Regions from separate parts of the Homo sapiens genome. Here regions 1 and 2 are each linked to region 3. The links come from fine-mapping of genetic effects on gene expression. A gene starts in region 3. Each other region holds a variant in brackets. All regions are shown on one strand. Distances are between the middles of the regions. Region 1 overlaps ZFP3 (ZFP3 zinc finger protein). Region 2 has its middle 15 kb from the start of ZFP3-DT. Region 3 holds the start of ZNF232 (zinc finger protein 232).

What was found. PIP is the estimated chance that this variant, and not a neighbour inherited with it, causes the effect. A credible set is the group of variants that fine-mapping cannot tell apart.
Region 1: its variant is the best candidate, but not a certain one, in a credible set for the expression of ZNF232 in whole blood (INTERVAL, PIP 0.76).
Region 2: its variant is the best candidate, but not a certain one, in a credible set for the expression of ZNF232 in whole blood (TOPMed, PIP 0.59).

The regions. Positions count from the first base shown.
Region 1 is chr17:5,083,485-5,090,001 of GRCh38, reverse strand. The region is part of intron 1 of ZFP3 (ZFP3 zinc finger protein); the gene reads right to left. Among named protein-coding and RNA genes, the nearest start is that of ZFP3, 8.3 kb to the right of the region's middle. The variant T/AT (reference allele first, on the strand shown) is at 2,925.
Region 2 is chr17:5,059,652-5,066,168 of GRCh38, reverse strand. It overlaps the pseudogene LOC100421332. Among named protein-coding and RNA genes, the nearest start is that of ZFP3-DT, 15 kb to the left of the region's middle. RefSeq lists an enhancer at 3,088-3,848. The variant GC/C (reference allele first, on the strand shown) is at 3,584.
Region 3 is chr17:5,109,850-5,116,173 of GRCh38, reverse strand. ZNF232 (zinc finger protein 232) reads left to right here and starts at 4,296. Exons shown (of 4, transcript NM_014519.6): 1 at 4,296-4,374; 2 at 6,306-6,324. The coding sequence starts at 4,352. It overlaps ZNF232-AS1 (ZNF232 antisense RNA 1), which reads right to left and starts at 4,239. Exons shown (of 3, transcript NR_135658.1): 1 at 4,073-4,239; 2 at 2,722-2,788; 3 at 1,792-2,016. USP6 (ubiquitin specific peptidase 6) reads right to left here and starts at 142. Exons shown (of 38, transcript NM_001304284.2): 1 at 1-142. RefSeq lists an enhancer at 3,936-3,985.

The sequences.
Region 1 (6,517 bases), 26 kb after region 3:
TATTTTCTTAATACCTTCATAGATTACTTAAAGAGTGCATTTTTGGCAGGGTGTGGTGGCTCACACCTGTAATTCCAGTACTTTGGGAGGCAGAGGTGGGAAGATGGCTTGAGCTCAGGAGTTCAAGACCAGCCTAGGTAACATAGGGAGATCTTGTCTCAACTAAAATTTTTTAAAAATTGGCCAGGGGCAGTGGCATGTGTCTGTAGTCTCAGCTACTGGGGAGGCTGAGGTAGGAGGGTCACTTGAGCCCAGGGGGTCAAGGCTGCAATGAGCCGTGATTGTGCCACTGTACTCCAGCCTGGGTAATAGAGCAAGACACCTTGTTTCTTGGGCAGGGGTGGGTGGGAGGAGAGTACCTTTTTAAAACTTTTACAAAGATTTTTAGTTGTGGCAAAAATGTTTAGTTGCCTACCCCAATATTATTCCCCATTGCCTTATAACAGAATAATAAATTTATATAGTGTGGCAATTAGCCTAGCTAAAAAAATACATTCCCCAGCTTTTTAATTTTTGCAGTTGGGATTGGCCACATGATCATATTCTAGCCAATGAGACAGTGAGATGCAAATGAAACCACATGGGACTACTAGGAAATCTCCTAAAGGATGAGGAGATACATTTCTTCCATCTTGTCTTCCATGCTGTTCCCAGAGCATGATGTGATAGCTGGACACCATCCTGGACCATGAGTATACTGGCATAGCCTAGGACTGGGGATCACAGCTGGAAGGAACCTGGGACCCTGATGACTCCATGGTACTGCCATACCAATCCTGGAATGCCAGCCTCTGGACTTCATTTATCTAAGAGAGAAATAAGCTTTTGCCTTGCTTAAGATATTGGGGGTTTTTTATTATTATACGAGGCCAAACCTATTCCTAATAAAACTGTCCTGGGGATTTGGCTGTCCCCACCACAGACAAGGGGTCCAAATGCCAGGAGAATAAGCCTGACCTTTGTTCAGATGGTAAGCAATCTGGAACTAATATTAAAGTGGCCTTTGCTTAGGGCAGTCTATTTGTGCACTACGGCAAATCTGAGGAATACAATCCTCCCGTCAGTGAAAGTGTTCACTGTGGAAGGTGATTCTCAAGGGGGCATGGGAATGTATGGAACTTCATCCTTTAGACATTGCAGAACTATGGGATGGTTTTTTAAACCAAGGAATGACATGGTCCCTAGTCAGATTAGCATTCCACGCAGATGCACACTCGTGGTCGTTTAGTGGCTGAAGTAGAAAGCAGTGGGCCTGGCCGGGCGTGGTGGCTCACGCCTGTAATTCCAGCACTTTGGGAGGCCGAGGATGGTGGATCACGAGGTCAGAAGATCGAGACCATCTTGGCTAACACGGTGAAACCCCGTCTCTACTAAAAATACAAAAAATTAGCCGGGCATGGTGGCGGGCGCCTGTAGTCCCAGCACTTTGGGAGGCCAAGGCGGGAGGATCACGAGATCAGGAGACTGAGACCATCCTGGCTCACACGGTGAAACCCCATCTCTACTAAAAAAAAAAAAAAAAAAAGAAAGCAGTAGGCCTGCACATAGGAAGATCAGCTGGGAGGCTGCTGCAGTCATCAAGGCAAAAGGTGATGTGATCTCACTAGAGCACTAGTAGCAGTGGGGAGGAAGAGACAGGCTGGGGAAATACGGAAGAGGTCAAATTCTGCAAGACTTGGTGTGTGACTGGAGATAGGTGTAAGGAGGGAGGACTCAAAGATGGTGCCCAGATCTCACTCAATTTGAGGGATGGTAATTAGATGGACGGTGGTGCCACAATATTCTGAATACTGGGAGAGGAGCTAATATAGCAATAAAAGATGATCAGTGAGCTCTGTTTTGGACAAAATGAGTTTCAAGGTATCCACAGAGAGGTATCAAAGAATCAGTCAAAATATATTGGTCTAAAGCTCAAAGTAGTCAGGACTAGAGATACAGACTTGAAAGTACTCAGCCTGAGTGTAGCATGAGAACCATCAGAGGCTGCGAACAGAAGCCTAGGAGTCAAAGAAACAGTCACGAGTGCTCCAGTTATCTTCCATTTTCCCTCTAGATCTTCTTTCCACCTTTCTCCCTGTCCCTCTTTGCCCCAGAAACCTAACCTGTATGGAACACATCAACAGAGCCTCTGGCTTCCAGCTGTGGTCCACCAATGAGGAGCCCCAGCAGGGGTCTGGAAGCAGGGACGAAAGGGCAGGGCAGGAGAAAGGGGTCAGGGTTCCTTCCTGTGAGGTCGCCTTGGGTTGGTGTTGTCCCTCAACTGAGGTCCCTACTCCTCTCAACTCTATCCTACTCAGTAGTCTCACTGTCTGGGTTCCAGTAACCTCTACTCCCTCCTCTCTCTTCAGGCCCAGGGCTAGTGACTATTATTGCCAGCCCTGGGTTCTTCAATGACCTGCCCACACCTAGATCATTTATAATTAACCTCGCTGCAAATAAACCCTCCTCAAATTATCCTAATTTGAGTGAGCTGTTTCCTGTTCAGACTCCGTTCATAAAGGGGTGAGTAGAGGAAGAGAATGAGCCAAGAAGATAAAGAATGGTAGGGAAACTGAAAAACCAGAATAATGTGTCACAGAAGTCACTTAGGCATTGGCAGAGGGAATTTAAAAATATCGAGTGAAGGCTAGGAACGGTGGCTCACGCCTTTAATGCCAGCACTTTGGGAGGAGTAGGTGGGAGGATCACTTGAGCCCAGGAGTTTGAGACCAGCCTGGGAAACATAGCAAGACCCCATCTCTACAAATTAAAAATTTAGCCAGGCATAGTGGCATGTGCCTGTAGTTCCAGCTACTCGGGAAGCTGAGGTGGGAGGATCACTTGAGCCTGTGAGGTAGAGGCTGCGGTAACCTATGATTGAGCCACTGTACTCCAGCCTGGGCAACAGAGTGAGACTCTGTCTCAAAAAAAAAAAAAAAAAAAAA[T/AT]CAAATGCAGTTGAGATTCGCTAGGATAAGAATTAGAAAATGTCTACTGAGGCTGGGCACAGTGGCTCACGCCTGTTATCCCAGCACTTTGGGAGGCCAAGGCAGGCAGATCATGAGGTCAGGAGATCGAGACCATCTTGGCTAACACGGTGAAACTCCGTCTCTACTAAAAGTACAAAAAAAGGAGCCAGGCGTGGTGGCGGGCGCCTGTAGTCCCAGCTACTCGGGAAGCTGAGGCAGGAGAATGGCCTGAACCCGGGAGGCGGAGCTTGCAGTGAGCCAAGATCACACCTCTGCACTCCAGCCTGGGTGACAGAGCGAGACTCCGTCTCAAAAAAAAAAAAAAAAAAAAAGAAAGAAAATGTGTACTGAGACAATAGATAGTCACATATGAACTGTGAGCACAGATTCAGGGGAATGACAGTAGCAAAAGCCAGCTGGTAGTGGACTGAATAATGAATTTGCTGCTTCTTTAAAAAAAAAAAAAAAAGTGGATGAAAGGAGAAGACCAAGACGGACAGTGCTATAGAGCAAGGCTTTCCTCTGATGGAAGAGATATGAACATGTTTATATTAGAAGGAATAGGTCCAGCAGAGAGACAGGGGTTAAGAGTGAAGAAAGGATGAGATTACTGAAGAAACAAAGACCCTGAGCAGCAGAGGAGGCTGGAGTCATGTGGTAAGGGAAGGGGAAAGGTGGAGATTTGGGGGCGACTTTGGACTCCCCTTCTCTCTGCCCAGCCTCCCGTTATCCACAGGATGTTGGTTACTAACACCATCCGGCTCGGGCACCTCTAGTCACTCATCAGGGCAGCCTGGTAATGCCCCCCTCCCCAGACACCTGGAAGGAACCTGATCTCCTACTGGAATCCTGAAGTCTTAGAAGCTCTTTGTGCTACACCTGAAAATGAGGTGGAACTTTCTTTGACCTTCCCCATCTCAGCATCTTCTCTCATTTTCCCATGAAGTAAGAGAGGGCACCTAAAAACTGTACTTCTCCTTTTTGTTGAAATCTTTGAAAATTATAGGTAATGTGTATCTATACAATTGTAAGAATCCATTGTCGAGAATTTAGCTATCTTCTTCCTCCATGGTACCATCTGAGTTGGGAAGTACTGTCTTAAATACATTTCTCTCTCATCCCTACCCAAGAGCAAGTTCCACAAGCTGCCATTTCAGTCTCCATCTGCTTCCAACCCCCTCTCTGGCCTTTCCTTTTCATCCTCATGCCTCCTATACTTGCTTATTTTCCATCATCTAGTTCTTTACAAAATCAGCATTCGTAGAGCTGACACGTGTACCACGATAAATGGAAAATCACTTTTTCTTAGCAAAACAAGATACGACAGAAGTTAGGTATGTATTTATCCCCAGTCAAGTAACCAGGACCTAGTTTAAAACTCAAATTCAGGGCCGGGTGTGGTGGCTCACACCTATAATCCCAGCACTTTGGAAGGCCGAGGTGGGCAGATCACGAGGTCAGGAGATCAAGACCATCCTGGCTAACACAGTGAAACTCCATCTCTACTAAAAATACAAAAAATTAGCTGGGCGTGGTGGCGGGCGCTTGTAGTCCCAGCTACTCAGGAGGCTGATGCAGGCGAGTGGCGTGAACCCAGGAGGCGGGGCTTGCAGTGAACCAAGATTGCGCCACTGCACTCCAGCCTGGGCGACAGAGCAAGGCTCCGTCTCAAAAAAAAAAAACAAAACTCAAATTCAGAAAGTCTCCCCTGGCCAGGCACGGTGGCTCATGCCTGTAATCCCAGCACTTTGAGAGGCTGAGGCAGGCAGAACCACCTGAGGTCAGGAGTTCGAGACCAGCCTGGACAACATGGTGAAACCCTGTCTCTACTAAAAAAAACACACAAAAAATTAGCCAGGCATGGTGGTGTGCACCTGTAGTCCCAGTTACTGGGGAGGCTGAGGCAGGAGAATCGCTTGAGCCCAGGAGGCACAAGTTGTAGTGAGCCAAGATCACTCCACTGCACTCCAGCCTGTGCAACAGAGTAAGATTCCATCTCAAAAAAAACACAGAAAGCCTTCCCCCACTAAATCTTACCCACTCTGATCATTCTTTTACTTTGCATTCTGCCAGCAACACAGTATGTCATTTGTCAAATACTGCTCTATGGGTATCTTCTCAAATACAAATCAAAGCCAATCTCCATTTGGTTGATTCTTCCAGAGGCACAGCCATATATTAGGCCTCAGACTCATATGGAAACACCACTTCTCATAGCCTAAATTCAAATTCCCAAATACAATTTTCTATCTTTCCGTTTCTCACTTCCTCACTTTCCTAAATCTGAAATTAAATGTTTCTGAAGAGAGATAAGATGGAGGTGCTACTGGAAGAGTAGAGGTTGACCACTGGTCCTCAGTTTGGGCATGACAGGCAGACCTCTATTGGGTTTCCACAGCTCAGAATAGGACCCTCAACTTGGCAGACCTAAATTTGTCTTTTCAATGCACCCAAGGAAAGCAAGCTCAAAAAGCCTCATTCAGGCCGGGCGCGGTGGCTCACGCCTGTAATCCCAGCACTTTGGGAGGCCGAGGCGGGCGGATCACGAGGTCAGGAGATCGAGACCATCCTGGCTAACACGGTGAAACCCCGTCTCTACTAAAAATACAAAAAATTAGCCGGGCGTAGTGGCGGGCGCCTGTAGTCCCAGCTACTTGGGAGGCTGAGGCAGGAGAATGGCGTGAACCCGAGAGGCGGAGCTTGCAGTGAGCCGAGATCCCGCCACTGCACTCCAGCCTGGGCGACAGAGCGAGACTCCGTCTCAAAAAAAAAAAAAAAAAAAAAAAAAAGCCTCATTCACAACGTACTGATGTATAAACCAGATATCTATTAATTAACAACAAGAAATAAAATTTATAAAGGACCATATTACCTAGATGAAAATCTACATGAGCCAGGCACAGTAGCTCATGCCTGTAATCCCAGCACTTTGGGAGGCCGAGGCAGGCAGATCACCTGAGGTCAGGAGTTCAAGACCAGCCTGGCCAACATGGTGAAACCTCATCTCTACAAAAATACAAAAATTGGCTGGGCATGATGGTGGGTGCTTATAATCCCAGCTACTCGGGAGGCTGAGGCAGGAGAATCAGTTGAACCTGGGAGGTGGAGGTTGCAGTGAGCTGAGATCGCACCATTGCACTCCAGCCTGGGCGACAGAGCCAGACTCCATCTCAAAAAAAAGAAAAGAAAAGAAAAGAAAAGAAAAGAAAATCTGCATGGAAAGCCACATAAAACCCTGAAAATTGCTTAGGAGCCCTGAAATCATGGCAGGAAGATCTTGTTAGATGAATGTCTCTTAAACAATGGTTCCTGGCCTGGAACTAGGCTAGCTGCGTGAGAATCCACTGAGAAATCTGTTAAAAATACTAATGTCCAGGTCCCATCTCAGATCTCTCAGAATCAGAATCTCTAGTGGGACCAAGAGATCTATATTTTAAACAAGTACCCTAGGTGATTCTGATGCCCAGCCAGGTTTGAAAACCACTGTTACAAAGTCTTTTTTTTTTTTTTTGAGATAGAGTTTCACTCTTGTTCCCCAGCTGGAGTGCAGTGGTGCAATCCTGGCTCCACCT
Region 2 (6,517 bases), 50 kb after region 3:
AATGGCTGACACTAGAGTCCACAATTTCTATATAATATCTGAAGGTCAGAGATCCAAAATGCAGAAACTAGATGACTGACTTATGAGACTGGTTGATCTTGACTGTGGATATTAGAAAACTTAAAATAGGGGAGACTTTCAAATGGAATTGAGGTGAAGTATGTGTGCAACCAGTGTAAGGAGCAGATGTTTGCAGATATTTCTTTTATTTTTATTTTTGAAACGGAATCTCACACTGTTGCCCAGGCTGCAGTACAGTGCTGTGATGTGGGCTCACTGCAGCCTCCAACTCCCAGGCTCAAGTGATCCTCCCGCTTCAGCCTCCTGAGTAGCTGGAGCTATAGGTGTGTGCCACAATGCTCCGCTAATTTTTTGCATTTTTTGTAGAGGTGGAGTCTCCCTGTGTTGCCCAAACTGATCTCAAACTCCTGGGCTCAAGCAATCCTCCTGCCTCTGCCTCCCAAAATTCCAAGATTACAGGCAGGAGTCACCATGACAAGCCTGCAGATATTTCAAATCCATCTGGGTTTCTGCTTCTCCTCATCTTTCTTGTCTCATTAGACATACCTTTTAAACTCTATTTGGCATTTCCTTATTTTTCCATAGGGCCACCCCTGAATCAGCAATTTTGTAAAGTTGTACTCAACCGATGCTCAAAACTAGACTCTTCTCCACTTGTGATTGAGCATGTAATTTGACCTAACAGTGCTGGACCCAAGGAAGTTGAGATTGTTCTTGGCAGTGTCTTTGGTGCCAAAATGTTGGAAGAATCTGGGCCCATTTCCAGCACTAATGGGCAATTGTTGAAAGTCACCAGATCCCACAAGGGTAAAAGCAGCATTACCAGCAGAGATGGACAAACATGTCCAAACTGGGTAAGCAGGTGACATCTCCCATCATCCTAATAATCACTGCTTAATATGGGATGTGGGTTGTAAGAATGACAGGAGACGGGCTGAACCCAGAGGGGCTGGGCTGTGCGGAGACGGATATAAATGATTGTATTAGGACTTTTCAAAATCAAGGGAATTCCCTTCTCTTGACAAGGACTAGGTGTTAAATTATGCAATGCAGTGGACATTTCAGCCTTCTCAGAGAACAAAGAACAGTTCTGCCCCTTTAGTCTCTACTCAAAACAATTGCACCCAACATTCACATATTATTTTGTTTCAGCCCAGCCTTCAGCTTGTGTGACTGGCCAACTGCCCTAAAATCATCTAACACATGAATTCTTTTTATTTTATTTTTATTATTTATTTATTTTTTTTCTTTTGAGATGGAGTTTCACTCTTGTTGCCCAGGCTGGAGTGCAGTGTCACAATCTCGGCTCACTGCAACCTCTGCCTCCTGGGTTCAAGCGATTCTCCTGCCTCAGCCTCCCGAGTAGCTGGGATTACAGGTGTGCACCACCACGCCTGGCTAATTTTTGTATTTTTAGTAGAGATGAGGTTTCTCCATGTTGGTCAGGCTTATTTAATCTCAATTACCTCCTTAAAGGCCTTATCTCTAAATACAGTCACATTTGGGATTAAGGCTTCGACATATAAATTTTGGGGGAATGCAGTTCAGTCTGTAACACCATGCCTCACCCCAGATCAATTAAAATTTGGAGGAGGAGGCTGGGAGCGGTGGCTCACGCCTGTAATCCCAGCACTTTGGGAGGCCAAGGTGGTGGTATGCAACTGTAGTCCCAGCTACTCAGGAGGCTGAGGTAGGAGAAACACTTGAACCCAGGAGGCGGAGGTTGCAGTGAGCCGAGATTGCGCCACTCACTCCAGCCTGGCGACAGGGCGACAGTGTGAGACTCTGTCAAAAAAAAAAAAAAATTTGGAGAAGGAGGGCAAGCATTGGTACCTTTTCTTTTTTCTTTTCTTTTCTTTCTTTTTTTTTTTTTTTTTGAGACACGGTTTCACAGTGTTGCCCAGGCTGGAATGCAGTGGCATGATCACAGCTCACTGCCTCCCATCTCAGCTACCTGAGTAGCTAGGACCACAGGCATGCACCACCATGCTCAGCTAATTTTTTTTTAAATTTTTTGTAGAGACAGGGGTCTCACTATGCTGCCCAAACTGGTCTGGAACTCCTGGGCTCAAGCAATCTGCCCACCTCGACCTCCCAAAGTGCTGGGATTACAGGCATTAGCCACCGTGCCCAGCCAGCATTGGTACTTTTAAAAGAGTTCTCCAGGCTTGGCCAAGCATGATGGCTCATGCCTGTAATCCCAGCACTTTGGGAGGCTAAGGCAAGAGGATCACTTCAGGTCAGGAGTTTTGAGACCAGCCTGGCCAACATGGCAAAACCCAGTCTCTACTAAAAATACAAAAATTAGCCAGGCGTGGTGGCAGGCACCTGTAGTCCCAGCTACTCGGGAGGCTGAGGCAGGAGAATCGCTTGAACCTGGGAGGAGGAAGTTACAGTGAGCTGAGATGGTGCCACTGTAGTCCAGCCTGGGCGACACAGTCAGACTCCATCTCAAAAAAAAAAAAAAAAAAAAAAAAAATGAGCCCTCCGGGGTTAAGAACCACTCATAAAGCATGAGCTTTGAAGACAATCCCACACTCCCCTTGGGCTTCTGCTATTTCCCATGTACCTAGGAAAGTGCCCTGAGCTCTGAGTTTAGGTTCCTCTCCTATAAAATGGGAGTACTATTAGCACACAGGGTTCATGTGAGAATTAAATGAGATACTGCAGACAAAGCACTTCACACCTGCCAGGCTGTCGCAGGTACTATACAATGGCAGTTCCCACTCAGCTACTCCTGCCATGAAGAAGGAGACAGAGAGATTTTCCTGAGGCAGCAGGCAACAGTTGGAAGAAAAGGGGAGCAGGAAAGGGTGTTTGTGTGAGGAAGGTTATCCTTTGCGTGAGGAAGCACAATTAAGTAAACTGAATGTTGAAAGAGAACAAGAGGCTGGGCGTGGTGGCTCAGGCCTGTAATCCCAGGACTTCGGGAAGCTCAGGTGGGCGGATCACCTGAGGTCAGGAGTTGGAGACCCATCTGGCCAACATGGCGAAACCCCGTCTCTACTAAAAATACAAAAAATTAGCCTGGCGTGGTGGTGCACGCCTGTCGTCCCAGGTACTCGGGAGGCTGAGGCATGAGAATTGCTTGAACCCGGGAGGCAGAGGTTGCAGTGAGTCGAGATCGCGCCACTGCACGCCAGCCTGGGCGACATAGCAAGACTCTGTCTGAAAAAGAAAAGAAGGCCAGGCACAGTGGCTCACGCCTATAATCCCAGCACTTAGGGAGGCCAAGTCAGGTGGATCACGAGGTCAGGAGTTCAAGACCCGCCTGACCAATATGGTGAAACCTTGTCTCTACTAAAAATACAAAAATTAGCTGGGCATGGTGGTGCATACCTGTAGTCCCAGCTACTCAAGAGGCTGAGGCACGAGAATCGCTTGAACCCGGGAGGTGGAGGTTGCATAGAGCCGAGATTGCGCCATTACACTCCAGCCTGGGCAACAGAGCGAGACTCTGTCTCAAAAAAAAAAAAAGAGAAGGAGATATGTTTACAGATTTAGGCGTCTTCTTCCCTACTCGGGAATAAAGAGGCAGTTTTCTTGCTGGGCATCAGGTGGC[GC/C]CAGCAACCTACAGACAAGAATTTCAACTGTGGCCGGGAAAGTGGATGAGGAAGGACAGTTGAGTCCCAGGTCTCCCTGATGCAGCTGCCACTTTGTCTAGACAGAGAGTCTTCAATCATTTGTCTAAATTTCAGTTAACCCATGAAATTCAGTATGTGGACTAATCCACCTCCTCTAGATTTTTTCTAATTATTTTGATATCAAGAGATATGTATAAACATGCATACTCTTATGTTTGTGGTGTTTTCTTAGACTGGCCGAAGATATTCTCTTTCATTGCAGTCATAGGATTATTCCCTGAGACGAATTATTTGATATTGTCATAAAGATTGACCTAGGCCAGACAGCATTTACCCATCTGTTACATTCAAACAGTTTCTCTCTGATATGAATTATCTGGGGTAGAGTAAGGCATGAACTATAATTGCAGGACTTCCAATATTTATGTCACTCACAGGTTTTCTCCCCAGAGGTAATTCTTTGATGTGGACGAAGATTTGAGCTCTGATTAAAGGCTGACCACATTCAATAAATTATGGGATTTCTCTCCTGAGCAAATTCGGTGATGTAGAATAAGATGAGGATTCTGAGGAAAGGCTTTCCTGCAGTCTTTACATTCAAAGGATTTCTCTTCTAACATGAAGTCTCTAGTAAGGCTAAATTATAGCTAAATATTTACCTGCACTCCTTACTTTTTTTTTTTTTTTTTTTCCTTGAGACAGAGTTTCGCTCTTGTTGCCCAGGCTGGAGTGCAATGGCGCAATCTCGGCTCACTGCAACCTCCACCTCCCGGGCTCAAGGAGCTCTCCTGCCTCAGCCTCCCGAGTAGCTGGGATTACAGGCACGCACCACCACGCCTCGCTAATTTTTTTTTGTATATATATATATTTTTTGTTTGTTTGTTTGAGACAGAGTCTCGCACTGTTGCCCAGGCTGGAGTGCAGTGGCATGATCTCAGCTCACTGCAAGCTCCGCCTCCGGGTTCACGCCATTCTCTGCCTCAGCCTCCCGAGTAGCTAGGACTACAGGCACCCACCACCACGCCTAGCTACTTTTTTGTATTTTTAATAGAGACGGGTTAGCCAGGATGGTCTCGATCTCCTGACTTCGTGATCTGCCTGCCTCGGCCTACCAAAGTGCTGGGATTACAGGCGTGAGCCACTGCGCCAGGCCATTTTTTTCTATTTTTAGTAGAGATGGAGATTCACCATGTTGGCCAGGCTGGTCTCAAACCCCTGACCTCGGGTGATCCGCCCATCTGGGCTTTCCCAAAGTGCTGGGATTACAGGCGTGAGCCACTGCATCTGGCCGACACTCCTTACTTTCACAGGGTTTTTTTCCAATGTGAATTGTGTGATGTTCAGTAAGACCTAAGCTCTAGCTGAAGGCTCTTCCACACTCGACGCCCTTACAGGGTTTTCCCCCCAAATGAATTATCTGATGTTGAACAAGTTGAGATCACCACCTGAAATATTTTCCAGCCAGGGGTGGTGGTTCTTTCCTGTAATCCCAGTACTTTGGGAGGCCGAGGCAGGAGGATGACTTGAGCCCAGAATTTCCAAACCAGCCTGGACCACATAGGGAGACCCTGTCTCTACAAAAACTAAAACAATTAGCCAGGCATGGTGGCACGCACCTGTAGTCCCAGCTACTCGGGAGGCTGAGGTGGGAGGATCGCTTGAGCCTGAGGGGTCGAGGCTACAGTGAGCCATGATCATGCGACTTTACTCCAGCCTAGGCAACAGAGCAAGACTCTGTCTCAAAAAAATGTTCCCACATTTATTACATTCATAAGTCTTTCTACTATGAATTCAACAATATCTAATGAGCTCTAACTTCCCTTTGAAAGTGCTCTCACTGCTGGGCGCGGTGGCTCACACCTGTAATCCCAGCACTTTCGGAGGCCAAGGTGGGTGGATCACAAGGTCAAGAGTTTGAGAACAGCCTGGCCAATATGGTAAAACCCCATCTCTACTAAAAATACAAAAATCAGTGAGCATGGTGGTGGATGCCTGTAGTCCCAGCTACTCAGAAGGCTGAGGCAGGAGAATCACTTGAACCCGGGAGGCAGAGATTGCAGTGAGCAGAGATCGCACCACTGCACTCCAGCCTAGGTGACAGAGCAAGACTCCATCTCAAAAGAAAAAAAAAAGTGCTCTCACATCTACTCTGTTCATAGGATTCTTCCATAATATGAATTCTCTGATTAGAGTATAGCGTTATGGACTGAATATATGTGTTCCCAAAAAATTCATACGTTAAAGACCCAACTCATGGCATGGCTATATTTGGAATAATTAATTGGAAGTAATTAAGGTTCAATGAAGTCATAAATTTGAGGCCCTGGCCAGAAGCAGTGGCTCAGACCTGTAATCCCAACACTTTGAGAGGTCAAGACAGGAGGATGGCTTGAACCATGGAGTTTCAGACCAGCCTGGGCAACATAGTGAGATGCCATCTCTACAAAAAATTTAAAAATTAGCTGGGCATGGTGGTGCATGATTGTGGTCCCAGCTACTCAGAAGGCTGAGGTGGGAGGATCCCTTGAGCCAAGGAGACCGAGGCTACAGTGAACCATGATCACTGGAGCCAAGGAGACTGAGGCTACAGTGAACCATGATCGCTGGGCTACTGCACTGCAGCGTGGGCGACAGGGTGAGACCCTGTCTCAAAAAAAGAGATGAAGAAGAAGGAGAAGGAGAAGAAGAAAGAAGAAAGAAGGAGAAGGAGATGGAGATGGAGAAGTAGAGGAAGGAGGAGAAGGAGGAGGAGGAGGAGGGGGGAGGAGGGAGGAGGGAGAAAGGAAGAAGGAGAAAGAAGAGACACCAGAGAGCTCTCTCATCCTCTCCCTTTCTCCCTCCCTCTCCCCAGCACTCCCCTAACTGCCCCACCACCACCTCCCCATAACCTGCACACTTGCACAGAGGAAAGG
Region 3 (6,324 bases):
CGGGGACAGCATGGGCGCGGCCGCCAAGGTAGCGTCGAGTGAGGGGAAGACTGATGGGCGCCTGGAGACGAGCTCCCACAGCGGCCACGCATTTGGAGCTGGGCGTCGGGGCCCGCCCGTCCCGCCGCGCCGCTAGCTGTCCCCTCTGCCTGGCCTCCGTGCCTTGCGCCCCTTTGTGCCGTCCAGCCCTACAGCTTTGAGGCCCTTTCGGCGCACGCACCCCGCCCCGATCCCCCGGCGCTATCCCAGCCTTGACGGCCGGGGAGGCTTTCCCTAGCCCGGCGCCTCGAGGACCGCCTCAGTGGCCAAAGGCGGCGCGGGGTGCGCCCGGGCTGTGTCCCCGGGAGGCTGGACCGCCAGTCCGCGCATGAGGCCATCTGTGAGGCACGAGTGCAGGAGAGTGAAGGAGACCGGGGCGTGCTGAGTAGGGACCTCCCTCAGTGACTGGAAGGTTATTCATGGGGCCTTCTGACACTCTAAAAACGAAATTTCTCCGGGGTTTGATGAGTATCAGGGTGGTGGCTTCTTGAGTTTTGAGCAGGCATCACAAATCAATCCCTCTGGAATACAGAACTGCCTCTGTTCCGTTTTGGGTTTTGTGTGTGTGTGTGTGTGTGTTTTTGGAGACGGAGTCTTGCTCTGTTGCCCAAGCCGGAGTGCAGTGGCGCCATCTCGGCTCACTGTAACCTCCGCCTCCCGGGTTAAAGCTGTTGTCCCGCCTCAGCCTCCCGAGTAGCTGGGATTACAGGCGCCCCCCACCACGCCAGGCTAATTTTGTATTTTTAGTAGAGAGAGGGTTTCACCATGTTGGCCAGGCTGGTCTTGAACTCCTGACCTCAGGTGATCCACTGGCCTCGGCCTCGCAAAGTGCTGGAATTACAGGCACGACCCACCACATCCGGCCCTCTGTTCCTTGTTTCGAAATAACTCAATTAAAAGTCAGAGGCTCACTGGCCACATCTCCTTCCACCCACCCACCGCCCCACCCCCCAAAAGATGCCTCTAGCAAATAAAATGAGACGTCCTGATGCCTTCCTGGCTCGTTCCAGAATTTTTAGCTTTGACTTTTGACGTGGGGTCCTTCTACCTAAAGTCCCCGCCGTCACATCAGCCCCCAGTTTTCCTCTGTCTTAGCTCGGGCTGCCGTAACAAAATACCATAGACTGGATGCCAGACAACAGAAATTTATTTTCTCAGTTTTGGAGGCTGCAAGGCTGTGACCAGGGCCCAACATGGTCAGGTTCTGGTGAGAGCTCCCTGGCTGCCTTCTCACAGGGTCCTCACATGGCAGAGAGAGAGGGACCCAAAGCCCTCTGGTGTCTTTTTTGTTTGTTTGTTATTTTTTGGGACGGAGTCTCACACTGCTGCCAGGCTGGAGTGCAGTGGCCCGATCTCGGCTCACTGCAACCTCCACCTCCCAGGTTCAAGTAATTCTCCAGCCCCAGCCTCCCAATTAGCTGGGATTACAGGCACCCACCACCACACCCGGCTAATTTTTGTATTTTTAGTAGAGAGGGGCTTTCACCATGCTGGCCAGGCTGGTCTCGAACTCCTGAGCCCAGCTGATCCACCCGCCTCGGTTTCCCAAAGTGCTGGGATTACAGGCGTGAGCCACTGCGCCTGGCCAGAACTCAGTCCTTACAGAACATCAGAGAATCCATACAAGGTGAGAGAGAGGCCTTATAAATGCATTGGGTGTGGGAAAGATTTGAAGGGGAGCTCACAACTTATTCAGCATCAAAGAATTCACAGTGGAAAGAAACTTTGTGAATGCAATGAATGTTCAAAGACTTGTAATCAGAGCTCACACTTTATTCGACATCATAGAATTCATAGTGGAGAAAAGCCCTATGAATGTGACAAGCATGGGAAAGCCTTCAGATGGAGCTCAGACCTTGTGAGGCATCTGGAAATTCATATTGGAGATAAAGTTTTGGAATGTAGCGAGCGTGGAAGAATTTTCAATCAGAGCTCAGGTCTAATGCAGCACCAAAGAAACCATACAGAATCATAACCCTAGGAAGACAGTAATGATAAAGATGTCAGTATGTACATATAGGAAGAGAGAAGGAGAGTTTGTTTTTGTCCTAACTATTTGGAAAATTGTAAGCTTCCTAAGAGCAATTTTCATCTGATTCAGTGTATAGTACTTAGTCTCAGGTCATGTGCAGATATGTCCTTCCCAAATGCTTACCACAAGATAAATCAGAAATCTTGACTGGAATAAGCTTCTAGTTCCTTTGCTTTATCATGAGAGGTTCCACACCACAGGAAAATCTTGTAAATGGTGGAAGCTGCATAAAGCACCATCATCATCACAAAATGGTGTCCTTGTGTGTCCTGTTTAGCAGCACCGAGAATCTAATAGCTTTCCCCTTGTCTGTTTTTCCTTACTATGAATTGTGCCAGGGGAACAGTAAAATGGGTATGATATCCTGAACTCTAGGGTGGATGTCTTTCTGGGACAGAATCTAATCCAAAAGTCTGCAAATGGACTTGAGGTTTTCACATTAGTATAAATGTCAATATGTAGTTTAGGGAATTTGCCTTATTCCTCCATTCCTAGCAAAATTAGATACAGAAGCAGCTAATTAAATCAGGAAAAGGAAACTGACAGTAAGTCATAGGACCCATTGTCTTCTCTCATGTAAAAGTAGAAGTTGTGATTCAATCTGTTCTGTAGGATTTAAAAGTATAATGGCACATTGAAGTTTGACATACTGAAATTCAGGCTCTGTCAATTTCATCTCTGTAACCTTTATTGTTTCTGAGTCTTGAGTTTTCTCATCTGTAAAATCAAGATAATGACATTAATACAATCCCTTGTGGAGCAACTGTGAAGACTAAATAAGACAATTTCATTAAGTTCCTGGCATAGTTCTAGACACGTAGTAGACATTCAACAAATGATAACTATTTTTATCCATAGCTCCTACGTGCAGTAATTATCAATGGCACTTTGAAGGAAAAAAGATAATATATCCCCCAGCCATGGGGGTGTCAATGCGCATTTTCAAGGATACTATATCTTGGAGAAACAAATTTAATAATCTGAGAATCTGAGAACTGTTACTATGGTACTACACAGTTGAACAACAATTTTTCTTGGAGAGACTAGGATTAAGCTATTTTATAAAAGTATTGAGAGACTGGATCAATCAATATCCTGCAAAATTGATAGTGAGATAAATTTATTTTTAATTAATTTTTTTTTTGAGACGGAGTCTCACTCTGTCGCCCAGGCTAGAGTGCAGTGGCACAATCTCAGCTTATTGCAACCTCTGCCTCCCGGGTTCAAACGATTCTCCTGCCTCCTGAGTAGTGGGGACTACAGGCGCCCGCCACCACGCCCAGCTAACCTTTTTGTATTTTTAATAGAGACAGGGTTTCACCATGTTGGCCACCATGTCTCAAAAAAAAAATAAAAAATAATCGGCCGGGCGCCTGTAAACCCAGCACTTTGGGAGGCCGAGACGGGCGGATCACGAGGTCAGGAGATCGAGACCATCCTGGCTAATATGGTGAAACGCCGTGTCTCCTACCAAAAAAAAAAAATTAGCCGGGCGTGGTGGCGGGCGCCTCTAGTCCCAGCTACTCAGGAGGCTGAGGCAGGAGAATGGCGTGAACCCGGGAGGCGGAGCTTGCAGTGAGCCAAGATCGCGCCACTGCACTCCAGCCTGGGCGACAGAGCAAGACTCCGTCTCAAATAAATAAATAAAATAAAAAATAACAACAACAAAAAAACACCAACCCCTATTTCCCCCATCGCAATAAAATTAACCTTAGAATTCTTTTTTCTCCTCCCCTCCCCCTACGCCCCAGGAATTGTACAGGCTAGTGGTTGGGGAATATTTTTTCGTGGAAGGGACCGTCTTCCTTAGCTGTGGCCCTCTCATCAGGTCTGGGAAGAGGTAATTGGAAAATAGAACTCATGGAGAAGTGTTACCACAGGCCATGGACAAGGCCAGAATTTCCCTGACATCTGTCCGCCAGCACCGCCCTTCAGGTACAATTCCACAAGAGACCCCCCAAACTTGATGAAGTCACCCGCTTACAAGGGCTCACTCTCCACCTGCGCAAGGACTGCAATTCCCAGGGGCCTCCAGGGCACCCGGCCGCTCCAGTCCAGTCGTGCAGGCGGCGCGCTCTTTCTCGCTCCGCTCAAGTCCAGGAACCGGTTCCCGGGCTCCCAGCCTCTCGGCAGCGCCCACGCGCCTGGGCCAAAGTCCGCGAACGGAAGCCGGCGGCGAGGAGGATTCTGGGAGTTGGAGGCCGAGGCTGCGACCTGCGCAGGCGCAAACCTGCCCCTGGGGTGAGGGCTGTAAGTGGCGCGATTCGCGGCAGCGCCCCGATGGAACCTCCTGGTCCTGTGAGGTGAGTGTTGGCGGCGGCTTCCCCGAGGTCCACCTGGCGGCTTGGCTTTTGCCCGTCCCGCAGGCAGCGGCGGCTCTGCAGTGAGCAGGCCTGGCAGGCAGCTCCGCGGTTGTGTGTGGAGAGGGGTTTGGGTTGCCCGTGGTGCCCGCGCTGCGCTACCTGCGTTGCGTCGCGTCACGTGCCGTGGAGGGGGGTCTTGATGTTCCTCTTCTCTTTTCTCGAGACCCTTGGGTAGGGAGTGAAGGGTGGGAAGGGGAGTTGTACCTGGCCTGGACGACAGCCCCCTCCCCGGGCGGGCACCTGCCCGAGGCCGGGGTAGAGAAGTTTTGCTGGGGCCAGCGGCGCCGGGCATCACCCTGGGAGACGCGAGCTCCGCGTTTTTCCTCGCGCCTCCTTTGTCTTAGGCCAGCGGTCCCCCTTTGTGCTCCTTTCGTGGCCTCTGATGCGTTCCACCTCCTTCCCTGTGTGAAAGGAAAATAAAATCTCAGGACCCCAAACTTACTATGACAAAGGGAAAAGTTAAGCTTGGAAACTGAGTCACGGAAAAAAACTGCTTTTCCTTTTGTTCCTAAACCGATAGCTGCAAGATAGAAAGCAACATATGCCCCCAGGTGGCCTCCCTCACCCTGGCAATGGAAACGAACAGCCGAGCTTCACCGGACAAGACTAGAAATCGTTCCTCCACCCACCCAGAGACAAAGCATATTTGACTTCTTCCTCTACTGTATGTCTACCTTATCTTGTGTAAAATGCAGATTTACTGAGCACGAGACAAATTCATAATTGACTTCCTCTTTTCACGTGCAACATGTGGATTCAGTGAGCTCTAATCAAATCCTCACAAGAATGTGGCCACTTACCTCACCACATACCCTCCCTCTTCTCTCCTCCTTCCCCTCCTGCCAGCTTTCTCCCCATTAAATTGAAGCCCTCAAAACCCTCTTTGGTAAAAGTGCGAGCCACGGATCCTACTGTGGCTTGTGTGTCTTTTTCCTGGGTGCATCCTCAACCTTAGCAAAATAACCCCTAAATTGGTTGAGACCTATCTCAGATGCTTTTTTGGTTTACACCTGTTAGATTTCCTTGACGCAGGCCACTGTACCCGAGACTTGTTCATAGCTGCCCCTTAATAGGGCTTTGGCATTTGAATGAGATCCAGCTCCTTAAAGGGGACTTATATTTTTCTTTTGCTGTAGCTACTACTTCAGAAATTTTTGAAAGCAGGGAGGAGCCATCTCAGAGGAGGCTGCCTCCCCAACACATTCCACCTTGCACTGAAAGCTGCTCGGCTCTGGGCTCTGCATCTGGAAACTTGGGTTTTGCTTCAAACTTATTTCTTCCAATAGTCATTTCTTCCCATAGGCCCCCAGAACTTTTTTTTTCTTGATACATTTTTCCTGTCAATGGCATTTAATTAGTTGTATTATAGAAAACCACTTTACATCCCCGTTTCTACCACGGTGCAAGTTTCTCAAAAACATTGACTTAGTGCAGCAGAATTCTGGGGAGGGGTGGAAGAAAAAGCGGGACTACAGGGCATAGGACAGGGTTTGGCTCTTTGGAGTGTTGAGTATATGTATATGTTTAATGAATGAAAAAAGAAGAGGAGGACGGGCGCGGTGGCTCATGCCTGTAATCCTACCACTTTGGGAGGCCGAGGTGGGTGGGTCACCTGAGGTCAGGAGTTCAAGACCAGCCTGGCCAATATGGCAAAACCCCGTCCCTACTAAAAATACAAAAAAATTAGCTGGATGTGGTGGCAGGCGCCTGTAATCCCAGCTACTTGGGAGGCTGAGGTAGGAGAATCGCTAGAACCCCGGGGGTGGAGGTTGCAGTGAGCTGAGATCATGTCACTGCACTCCAGCCTGGGTAACAGAGAAAGACTCTGTCTTAAAAAAAAAAAAGAGGAATGATTTCTTCTTATGTTACAGGGGGCCCTTGCAAGATTCC